2 linked regions of the Homo sapiens genome follow. The protein of the gene in region 2 interacts with the protein of the main gene of each other region in a pairwise test. Each region holds a gene or a part of one and is shown on either strand. Other genes may lie near its edges.

Region 1 (3,452 bases), on a different chromosome or scaffold from region 2:
CTGGACTCCATGGTGGGCGGGGTGTATGGGACAGGCAGGTGGCTGCACCAGAGGGGCTCAGGAAAGCTCGACGCGGAAAGTGTTAAGACTTTTGGAAATGTTGAGATGGGGCGAAAATGTATTTTGCACAGGTGAAGGAAATCAACTTTGGGAATCAGAGGGCAGATTGTTTTGTGTTGAACTGTGTCTCCCAAAAGAGATGCTGAAGTCCTAACCTGTACATGTGACCTTATTTGAAAATAAGGAGCTGCAGATATGATTAAGATGGGTCATAGTAGATTAGGGAAGCTGTCCTTGTAAGAAGAGGAAAATTTGGCTGATACAGAAGGAGGACAGCCACCTGAAGATGGAGGCGGGGACTGGAGTGATGCTGCCACCAGCTGCCAGAAGCTGGAAGCAGCAAGGCTGCATCCTCCTGTATCCCCTTTGGAGGGAGAATGGCCCTGCTGCTACGGTGATCTCAAACTTCCAGCCTACAGAACTGTGAGAAAGTCCATTTCTGTTGTTTAAAGACTCCCAGTTTGTGTACTTTATTAGAGCAGTCCTAGAAAACACATAGAGATTCAAGTCTGGCAAATAATGATCGAACAATGATTTGTTGGGTAAAATGGTGATTAAAACCTAGGTTAGAAAATGAGCAAAGTGGGAGGGAGAGCACCAGGACAAATAGCTAATGCATGCAGGGCTTAATACCTAGGTGATGGGTTGATAGATACAGCAAACCACCACAGCACATGTTTACCTATGTAACAAACATGCATGTTTTGCATATGTATCCCAGAACTTAAAATAAAATAAAATTTTTTTAAAAGACAAAATGAGCAGTGTCTACAGCTTTCTGGAGTATGACAGCATCACCAGCTTAAAGCTGTTGCTAGTACTAAATTGAATAAACATTTCCCTCTAATTTCCCCTTAATGTCCTCAGAAACACAGATGAGGGATACATCTTCATATGACTCCTCAGAGCACTAAAATGATATTAAAACACTCTTCCCACAAGAAACGCACAGACGAGGGATTCTTCAGATAATAGGAATAAGAAATGTGAAATAAATTAGAATAAACCATGCAGCTATTTTAAATATTTACTCCTGGAAAAATAGTAAGTTACACAGAATCAGTTTTGGGAATAACTTTTCCATTTTCACCTTTTTATGATTATTGTAATAATTGGAGGAATTAATAAAGTAAAACCATCTGAATAAGTTCATCCCAAGCTGATTCTGATGGATGGTGTGGCGGATTTTTAAACTCTCCTCTGTCACGGGCTGCTGAACAGAAGGAACCCTGTGAAAGTTGTGTCATCGTCCTCATCAGCAAACAAGCCATTGAACCTCTCTCCTCCTGTCACCTGCAGCCACACCTCATCCCCGAGCTTCAGCTGCAGGACAATGCCGCCAGAGGCCTGGTCCTCAGAGCTCATGTAAGCATCTTTGGTGTGCAGTATTTTTACTCCATTTTTGACCAAAGACACCTGAACATTTCTGGAGAAAACAGTGATGTGGTAGGTGAAGTAATAGACCCCAGCAATGTGGCACGTGAATTTCCCCGCTGCTGTATCATAATGGTTGAATTCGTTATACAGGATCTTATCAAATTTAATGGGCATATCTGAAGAAGGAAACTTGCTCAGCACCGTGAGCCCCACAGTGAAAGCACTTTTTGGCAAGACTAGAGTCTCACCGATTTTCCCTTTCTCTCCTCGATCTCCTTTCCAGCCTCTTATTCCCCGGACTCCTGGCTCACCCTGGGGCCCCGTGGGTCCAGCTTCTCCTTTGGGACCAGGCTTTCCAATAGGGCCCATGGGGCCCGGTAAACCAGTTGGGCCCAAAGGCCCAATGTTGCCCCTTGGCCCCTCAGGACCAGTGGGACCCACGTCACCCTTATTCCCCTTCTGCCCCTGAGGCCCAGTCTCTCCTCGGAGGCCCTTCTCTCCCATGGGCCCTGCAAGCCCCTTGGGGCCATGTTTTCCTGGGGATCCTCTTGAGCCTTGATCACCTTTGATGCCTTTTGCTTCAACTTTTCCATCTGCTCCTAAATAGAGAAAGAGCAAATAAAGAGATAGCTTGTGAAAGATTCCCTTGTGAACAACTTTGGTTTTTCTATAATTGAGCTCACAAATGAAACAAAGTAGTGCACAGGTTCAGTATATGCCCAGAGTTTAAAATTCAATTACTCCATCTGGGTGCAGTGGCTCACACCTGTAATCCTAGCACCTTGGGAGACCGCGGCAGGAGGACTGCCTGAGGCCAAGAGTTCAAGACCAACCTGGCCAACATAGCAATACCCTGACTCTAAAAAAAAAAAAGAAAAAGAAAAATAAGAAAATAAAATTCAATTACTCCAGCCCAGCTCAGTGGCTCATGCCTGTAATCCTAGCACTTTGGGAGGCCAAGGTGGGCAGACTACTTGAGTCCAGGAATTCAAGATCAGCCTAGGCAACATGGCCAAACCTTATCTCTGCAAAAAATACAAAAATTAGCCAGGCGCGGTGGTGCACAACTGTAGTTCCAGATACTCAGGAGGCTGAGGTGGGAGGATGGCTTGAGCCCAGGAGGCTGAGGCTGCAGTGATCCGTGATCAAACCACTGCACTGCAGCCTGGGCAACAGAGTGAGATTCTGTCTCAAAAAAAATAAAAATAAATGAAAATCAATTACTCCAATTACACACGTGTGTGCACATGGACACACACACATCCCAACACACCTTTTGACTACCGTCTACTAAATTAGTGTCAGGGCTCACGTTAGAAATTACAACCCTACCATCTAAGTCTACCATGCTGGCCATTAAATAATGTCAATCCATGACAGAAAGCACTCTTCAGAGCAGAGACAGGTAGATTAACTGACACTCAACCCTAGTCGTGACATCCTCTAAAAACCTCCTCCCTGGAGTGAACATAAAATAAAGCCTGCATCGAGGCATTGCCCTCTCCTGCCCAACCCCAGCCCCAACCCACCTATCCCACCGGCAATTCATCATCTACAGAAACCTTGCTGCTTCCTTGCACCCCCACCCATACCAAAGAGCCGTGGTTGCAAGTGTGGACTCTGAGGTTAAATGCCAGGTTTCCATTCTGTCCCCATATGCACACAGGACGTCAGATGAGCTAGTGAGCCTCGTGCCTCTGTTCCCTCACATATGGAACTAGGGTAATAAAACTACCTAGCGTCTGGGGATATTGCATTCAGTGAGTCAGTACATGAAAAGCACAAAGTGAAGATTACACAAGTTTGCCACTACGACTACATCCCGACCCATCAGGGACCAGTTCTAGTTCCACCTCCTCCATGCAGTGCTGCCAGATGCACCAAGTCAAAAACTCAGTCTCACTCCTCAGTGCTCATCCACTGCAAGGTTCAAGGTTCAACAAACTACAGCCACAGGCCAAATTCAGCCTCCCTCCCGCAAGCTAAACAAATATGGTTTACATGTTTTTTTGTTT
Region 2 (3,500 bases):
ATGAATTGATTGATTTGGCAGAGGCGGAGACCAGAATCATTCAATCTCACACTTATTTCTCTTTCTATAATGAGTTCACAAAAAGCTAACTGTAATCTGACTTTCATTATGCCTTTCAAGTCTAAATCCACTTTGATAAGACTTGCCCTTTTATACTCCCTTAGGAATCCTTTTTAGGCCAATTTGGCACATCAGGGCAGCGTCTAAAATTACATTTAATAATATGTCAAATGTTAGATCTTATGATTTTGTTCTATTCTTTTTTTTTGATGTGTATTTAGCTATTTTGGTAAGTATTCTTCTTCTCTAAAATTGTCCAAATCTTTCCTAAATACTCTTTATAAATTGCTTTGCTTGCATCTGGTGATATCGTTTGCCTTCTAAAAATTTTAATGAATCTTGGAACAGAATGCTCTACTTAAAACTCAAAATGTGTCCTTTTTAATTCTACATTTTGTCATGTTTAGAGTTAGATGTCTTTAGGGTTGTTATGCACACAGTATGTGTCTTGGCTTTTTCTTTATGCATCTTAAATATTATGCATTATTAAACATGGTGACATAAAAAAAATTATACTATTTGTAGAACATTCTAGACAGCTCAAATTCCAGCTGCACCATAGACTGAATTACTTACACTTTGTATGCCTCTGTTTCCTCATCTGTATGTGAATAAAACAGTATCAACTCTTTGGGTCTCAGTAAGAATTAACTGAAATACACCAGGTAAAGTGCTTATTTTATCTTATTTTATTTTTTATTTGAGATGGAGTCTTGCTCTGTCGCCCAGGTCAGAGTGCAGTGGCATGATCTCGGCTCACTGCAACCTTCACCTCCCTGGTTCAAGCAATTCTCCTACCTCAGCCTCCTGAGTAGCTGGGGTTACAGGCATGCGCCACCACGCCCAGCTAATTTTTGTATTTTTTTGGTAGAGATAGGGTTTCAACATATTGGCCAGGCTGGTCTCAAACTCCTGACCTCAAGTGATCCACCTGCCTCGGCCTCCCAAAGTGCTGGGATTACAGGCATGAGCCACCATGCCCGGACAGGTAAAGTGCTTAGAACAGGGCCTAACATATGGAAAGATTTCAAGCATTTTCCTCCTAAAGCAGTAAACTCAGAAATCTTGTCTGGCACAAGGTATTAAATGCCTCATATTTCACATAAACTGATGGCATTTCCCTCAACATAAGGGATGTAACAACCACTGCTCACCTCCTCACTAGTGTAATATTTATAATACACGCCAAGAAAGCTGCTATGATAGTCATAACCATCATTCCCACCACTATATTTCCTTCTTTTACTTGTGGTGATACATCTTCGCTTTCACCCATAGAAGCTCAGATCAAATAAAAGGTCTATACTCCATGACCTCTGTTGTGTTCTTACTGAAATGAGCCATGTCCAATTCGGGGGTCTGTAGTTGTCAGCATAAGGTGATAACGGTTGGGTTGTTTCTTCACTGTTCTTGTGGGGACATGGCCTTTCCCACTTAGATGAAAGAGTTACCCTACAGAGTTGAACAATATCTATGTCTGTCTCCAAGGGTTATAAGTCTTGGGTTTGTGGGACTTTACAATTTCTCTCCCTGGCCAGGCGTGGTGGCTCATGCCTATAATCCCAGCACTTTGGGAGGCTGAGGTGGGAGGATCACCTGAGGTCGGGAGTTTGAGACCAGCCTGACCAACATGGAAAAACCCCATCTCTACTAAAAATACAAAATTAGCAGGGCATGGTGGCGCATGCCTGTAATCCCAGCTACTCAGGAGGCTGAGGCAGGAGAATCACTTGAACCTGGGAGAACGGAGGTTGTGGTGAGCCAAGATCGCGCCATTGCACTCCAACCTGGGCAACAAGAGTGAAACTCCGTCTCAAAAAAAAAAAAAAGAAGATTTCTCTCTCTTATCAGGGGTGCTTTTTGGTGGATAGGGTCTTCCTCAGTCTGCGCTTTCCTGAGATGACCACATAAAGAACTCTCCATGACCACATATGGATGTGGTGGGTGATTGATTGAGTGTCACTGTGTTTATTGCGGTGGAATTTTATTTTTATGACCCCACCTGGCGTCAGGACTCTTCTTCCTCTATTTTTAAAAAGTCACCCAATGTGAGGTCCAGCAACAGTTTGGAGCAAGGCCTTTAAGAAATTTATCCTATAACCCTATAGCCACATAAATAAGTGATACAAGATCAGGTACAATGGCTCATGCCTGTAATCCCAGCATTTTGGGAGGCCAAGGCCAGAGAATTGCTTAAGCCCAGGGGTTTGAGACCAGCCCAAGCAACATGGTGAAACAGCATGAAAAAATACAAAAATTATCTGGATGTGGTGGTGTACACCTGTAGTCCCAGCTACTTGGGAGGCTGAAGCAGGAGATTCACTTGAGCCCAGGAGGCTGCAATGAGCCATGATCATGCCACTGCACTCCTGCCTGGGTGGCAGAGTGAGACTCTGTCTCAAAATAATAATAACAATAATAACTGATTCAAGATCCCCAAAAAAGACACAGTAAAGGAGGAAACTGTTAACAATTCAAATTGCTTTTGCAATAATTTCTTTTTGACCTATGCTAAAATTTTAAGCTCCTTCAATCTGAGTAAATCTTCCCCTGCAAAACACACCCCATTTGATTCTTTAAAACATGGTAAGAGTAGTGAGGAAGGCAAGTCCTCAGATCTTAGCAATTTTCCCCCAGCCCCATGTTAACAATGAGAAGCTATTTGTTGCTATGTAATAAGGACCATATTTTAATCCTCTTCCTGTGTGAAATGACATCCTGAGATGAAACTTGCATAATTAGAAGGACAAAAGAATGAATTGACTAGGGGAGGAAAAAAAACCCTGTAGATTCAGGGAAATTCCAAAGGTTGAATAATGAGTCATTGAATATTTACATGATCAAGGTACAATTAGACTTCATCTATTCAGAACATTAGAGTACAGTACAGTCTTTGGCAACATTCGACCATAGTAAATAAATATGGATTAAATTGATTGAATCATTCTGAATAGCTGGATTCTCTGCACAGCTAAAGGTTAATTTTGTTATATAACCTCAGAGCCTTATTTTTTCCACCAGTTTGAATAGAAACATTCTTAAAATGTAATATATTACTCCTTGCTTTAAAAAATAAAGTACAGTGGATATAATTTGTCTTAAATTATAGATATCAGTTATTAGTAGCATGTGACACCCTGAGGGCCCAAATTATTTGCTCTTTTGAAAAATGGACTCATATTGATTTGTATTTTGAATTTCTTTCCAATTTTTCTTAGCTTTCCTACTTTATCCCTCCTAGAAGTGTGCTGTCTTCTTTAGTACTCTTGTCAGTCAGCATATGAAACTGTTCCCCTCACTCCCCTTTGTCCTTTATTATAGACGCCATTCCAGGTAATTAATCTGGCTGAGTAGAGTTTAGCACCACCTAAGGCACAACATTTAAGAAGGCACTGACTTTCTGGGTCACCAAAATGCAGGTTCAGCCCCTTAAGTGACCT

What was found.
Region 1: the proteins of MYBPC1 (region 2) and C1QTNF9 interact in a two-hybrid assay, tested with the Homo sapiens proteins (one large-scale study listed by BioGRID and IntAct).

What each region holds. Positions count from the first base shown.
Region 1 is NC_000013.11:24,319,580-24,323,031, reverse strand, and holds the end of C1QTNF9 (complement C1q and tumor necrosis factor-related protein 9A precursor), read right to left. Parts: intron 2,037-3,452; coding exon 1,264-2,036; 3' UTR 501-1,263; downstream 1-500. UniProt on the Homo sapiens protein: Probable adipokine. Activates AMPK, AKT, and p44/42 MAPK signaling pathways.
Region 2 is NC_000012.12:101,601,471-101,604,970, forward strand, and holds part of MYBPC1 (myosin-binding protein C, slow-type), read left to right. Parts: intron 1-3,500. UniProt on the Homo sapiens protein: Thick filament-associated protein located in the crossbridge region of vertebrate striated muscle a bands. Slow skeletal protein that binds to both myosin and actin.